Regions from separate parts of the Homo sapiens genome. Here region 2 is linked to region 1. Evidence: fine-mapped expression QTL. Tissue or cell type: whole blood. Region 1 holds a variant in brackets; the other region holds the start of a gene. All regions are shown on one strand. Distances are from middle to middle.

The links. PIP is the estimated chance that this variant, and not a neighbour inherited with it, causes the effect.
Region 2: it holds the start of HPS4, and the variant in region 1 is fine-mapped to the expression of HPS4 in whole blood (TOPMed, PIP above 0.99).

The regions. Positions count from the first base shown.
Region 1 is chr22:26,424,808-26,427,307 of GRCh38, forward strand. No RefSeq gene overlaps it. Among named protein-coding and RNA genes, the nearest start is that of ASPHD2, 3.2 kb to the right of the region's middle. The variant T/G (reference allele first, on the strand shown) is at 960.
Region 2 is chr22:26,482,475-26,484,974 of GRCh38, forward strand. It overlaps HPS4 (HPS4 biogenesis of lysosomal organelles complex 3 subunit 2), which reads right to left and starts at 1,309. Exons shown (of 14, transcript NM_022081.6): 1 at 1,200-1,309. SRRD (SRR1 domain containing) reads left to right here and starts at 1,403. Exons shown (of 7, transcript NM_001013694.3): 1 at 1,403-1,625. The coding sequence starts at 1,417. RefSeq lists an enhancer at 1,357-1,476 and a silencer at 1,497-1,586.

The sequences.
Region 1 (2,500 bases):
CCACCTCAGCCTCCCAAGTAGCTGAGATTACAGGTGTGAGCCACCATGCCCGGCTTTAAAAACCATTTTAATATCACAAATAACATACTAATACTTATTTGTTAAAAGTGAAACTTACTTTTTAAAAGTTAAAAGTTAAGCTATTTCCAAATATTTGCAAATGCAAAGCGTATTCCTGAAAAGATGAATAAGAAATTTGTTATAATGGCTGTCTTCACTAAAGAAAACCAACTGGTTGAGGGATAGGAGAGTGACGCGGTCCCAGTAACTTTCTGCATGTTGTTCCGGAGTATTTAAACACCTTTGAAAATATTAAATTAAAACATCACAAAAAATGCTGGAGTTTCCCTTGCCTACTGCTCCCAATTCCTTGTTCCTTCTTGGTCCCCCCTGAAGTTACAACTCTTAGGAATTTGGTGTGCTTCCTCTGAGGGATATTATCTGCATTTACAAACGTAATTATTTTGCATTTTATATAGGAGAACATACTAGTGTGTTCTTCTAGTGCTTTCCCTGCTTTTATATAAATACATGTGTATACCCACATGTGTACAGGTGCGTGTTATGTAGATAAAATCATACTACAATCATAATTCTGCTTTTTTTTTAATTTTCACCCTATTATTTTTCTAGGAGCTTTATCCACGTTGCTATATATACATCTAGCTCCTGCTTTTAGTAGCTTCACAGTATTACGTAATATGAAAAAACAACTAGTCTTCCATCTATCCCAGAATCCCTCTAGGTTAGATATAGCATAGCGAAATTGTTGGTTTCAGTGTATACATATTTGTTGTTGTTTTAAGGAATACTACCAAACTGCTCTCCAAAGTGATCATACCAGTTTCTTTAATGCACCAAGCAAGCACATCTCCCTCCCTCCCTCCCTTCTTTCTTTCCTTCCTTCCTTTCCTCCTTCCCTCTCTCCCTCCCTCCCTCTCTCTTTCTTTCTTTCTTCT[T/G]TCAGAGAGTTTTGCTCTGTTACCCAGGCTGGAATGCAGTAGTGCAATCTCAGCTCACTGCAACCTCTGCCTCCTGGGTTCAAGCAATTCTCCTGCCTCAGCCTCCAGAGTAGCTGGGACTACAGGCGTGCACCACCACACCTGTAGTTAATTAATACAAAAATTAATACAAAACTTTTTGTACTTTTAGTAGAGACAGGGTTTCAACATGTTGATCAGGATGGTCTAGGACTTCTGACTTCAGGTGATCCACTGGCCTCGGCCTCCCAAAGTGCTGGGATTACAGATGTGAGCCACCACGGCTGGCCGCAAGCACATTTTCCACTGACTTGCTGCAACCTTGATTGAGCAAGGCATGTTTTCTCTCTGGGCTTCCATCTGTAGGAGGAGGGAGTTGAGTGGACCCCGTGAGTGTATGAGACGGTGTAATGATAGGTTGTGTAGTCTCGGAGTGGGTAGGATGACTGCGCTAAAGAAGGCAGCGAGAGCAGGAGGATGCAGGTGGCAGCCAAGCTGAAGGCAGGCAATTCAGATGCCCTTGGTCCTCCTCTCCGCCTCTCCATGAGCACAGTAACAATTTATCTGGAGCTCTCACCCAAAATCCCCCTCTGAAAGGCATGGATATCCTTTTCTGCAGAATTCACCTAGTAGGGTCTCCAAGGGGTTGACAGAGGCCCAGGTCATTTCCATTTATTGAGACTCCCAGCTAATTAAAAAGATGAAGAAATGGTAAGCAGGGCTAACAAAATTGCGTGTATAGTAATATTGCCATTGAACAAATAAATACTAACAAATGCAGAGCAGTGGTCTACAGATATCATATAATTGCACTGGTCAAGGACACTTATAGGATTGATAGACAATATTAATTCATAATACAGTACAGATAAGATGGTGCAGGAATGGAACACATATTTACAATATAAAAATATCTTTTTTTTTTCAAACCTGCCAGGATAATGCTGTGATAGAATGTATGACTGCCTTTGGAGAATTCTAAGTTTGAGCAACTTTCTGAATGTGAGATGAGTCAAATACCCCCCACTCCATTTTCTCCACCCCACCCAGGCTCAACCACTCTTAGGCTGACAGTGAAGACAGACATCCCATTTAATGTTTCTAAATCTGATGCCTGTGTTGATTATCCACACTTTGAGCAAATCTGTGCATATTATGGTTTCCCAATGCAAGTGTTTTGGTTTATTTTAGTAGAATAAAAGAGAAAAAACATTCTTCCTCTTTTGGAGTTGAGAAAAGGAGAGAAATGACAGAGATGAAGAAGAGTCTAAGACATGGAAGAGGTGTATTCTGGGACATGGGAGAGGTGTACTCTGGGACATGGAAGAAGTGGGTTCTGGGACATGACAAACTGGGTTCTGGAACAGGGAGGAGGTGGATTTTAGGCTATCACAGTAGAGGCAGATTCTTAGGTCAGGGACCAGGTGGATTTTGGGACAGAGATGAGAGGTGGGTTCTGGGACATGGTGGAGGTGGGCTCTGGGACAGGGAGGAGGTACATTCTGGAACAGGGTGAAGGTGGC
Region 2 (2,500 bases), 58 kb after region 1:
TGCTCTAGGTGTGGACAGCTATACAAATAAACCAGTTGCTGTGGTAATAATGGAACCCAAATTAAGGAACTGTCATCTTGACAGTCCAAAAGTAACCTGAACATGCAGAATTCCAGAGCAGGGCAAATTTCTAAAAAATGAAGAGAACTTTATCAAATGGCTTTCAAACTTCCACAAGAGAAAGACAGCTCAGTGTATCACGGAATTTCAGAGTCGGAAGGAACCCTGGCATCGTTTACTCTACTCTCCTGCACTCTTTTCCAAAAATTACCTTGGCTGTCTCTGCTTTACACCCTCCAGAGATGCGTGGTTCACTATGTTACATTTCTCCTTCCAACAAACTAAAATCTGCGTTCCAGATTTTACATCTGCCTCCCACTCGCTAGTCTGGATAACGCTCTGCAGGAAAACACAAAACAAGGTCTAATTCTTCCATGTGACAACCTCTTGGTCACTTCAAAACTATTGTCTAATTCTTACTGTCACTTTCTCCAAGCTTAATGCTTTAGCAACATGGTCTCAAATGTTTGCTCACCATTCTGCAATCTGTGGGTACACAATACAGTTTGTTAAAAGTCTCTAGAGACGACCCCCATTGAATATTTGACGGCCTGTAAAATCTCTATCTCTTCTCAGCTCTAGATATTTTGGATTGGGCCTCCACAGGACCACACTCATTGTATTCTATGGAGCATATTTGGGTGCCTGTGGAGGGGGTATCTCTGTTACTGGAACCAAGGACAGCAGCCTAAAACTCCCCATCCCTTGTTCCCAGAGGACTGGGCCCTACACTACCGAGGTCCTCTCTTATCTCTGAAAGGTCCAGAAGAGACCAATAATGGCCCTGGAGTAGGAAGAGACGTCGGAACATGAGCAGAAAAGGATCTGGTAGCCTGGGAAGTAATAGTAACAACGCGGGGCTGGGGCTGGTGATACTGCTGTGGGAAGGGGCCTCAGTGGGGCAGCAGGGCTGGAAAACGGACGCTAATGGCTGGAAAAGGGCCAGGAAGCTGCTGGGCGCAGCCCCCGGGGCGCAGGCAGCGACTGGTAACAGCACTAGGGCTGTGCGGTGTCTGGCCCCAGCTCTACGGGACTGGGAAATGGTGGGCGAACGCCTAAGGATTAGGCGGGGTCGGGTCACGCTCTAAGCTGGGGGCCCGCCCCTCGGTATCCCCGCGCTCCGAGCGCCGCCCACCCACCGGAGTAGCCAGGCATCCCAGTGCTCGGGGTTCGGGACTCTGGACCAGAAATGTGGGCAGCAGCTGGGTACCTGCGACTTCTGCCCCGTACCTGCGCGCGCGGCAGAGAGGCCTTAGGTCACGCGCCGCCCCGCCTACCTCCCCCTCCAGCTCCTGGCAAGCCGGCGCGCGGCGATGACGTGCCGAGTGCGCCGCACGCCGCTGACGTCAGAGACCAATGGCTGCGGCCGCAGCTGCGGCGCTGGAATCCTGGCAGGCGGCGGCTCCGCGGAAGAGGCGCTCCGCGGCTCGACGGCCGCGGCGGAGGGAGGCGGCGCCCCGGGGGAGAGAGGCGGCGCCCCGGGGGAGAGAGGCGGCGCCCCGGGGCCCCGAGGCGGAGTTCGAGTCTGACAGCGGAGTCGTGCTTCGTCGCATCTGGGAGGCTGAGTGAGTGCAGGCTCGGCCCTGATGGAATCTTTGCGCCCATGGGCAATTCTGAGCCACAGTCTCCCCATCTGTAGAGTGGAGATATAATGCACACCCTTTAAGGAGTTATTGTGAAGAGTTAACGTAGGTAACGAGCTCATTAAAGATGTGGATTATAGTAAGCGCTCAGTTAAAGGTCGTCTTTCCTTTTATTACGGTTACAGCTGCGTGACCTTGGACAATTTATAATCTCTGTGCCTCAGTTTTCTCATCTGTGAGATGGGGATGAAAATAGTACATACGTAGGTTTGTTTTGAGGATTCAATGAATTAGTAAACGGAAACCATTTTCTGGCACGTGGTAAGCACTGTGCCAGTGTTTGCTATTAATATTATGCCGATGTTGATATTATTGGTGGTGGTGACACGAGGGAAGCAACATGAACACGTGACTGCTATCATCAGGCAGCTGCTATGTGCCTGACATTAGCTTAATCATTCTACACACTTTATGTTAAACATTGCAGGCATACTAGGACCCTGGTAGCTCACTGATTCTCAAAGAGACAAAGAAAATGTGTGGAACCAGATTTCAAACCCAGGTCTTTGTGACAAAAACCAGTGCTTCCAGCTTTCCATTATGCTTGTTGCTTATCCCAGCCCAGATTCTCACATACCTTGCTCTGTACCTTAGAAAGTACATAGAGAGTGCCTAATACAGAGGAAACACTCAATAAATGTTACTTATTATTGTTATTTAGTATTATTATCTTTATTCGCAGTTTTGTTTAGGCTCAATAAATAACAGCTTTAGTTAGCACTTAAGATCAGCATCCGAAGGGCCGTCACAAGGGGAGAAATTAGATTAATTTTGTGTGCTCCTCTCCCCTAGAATTA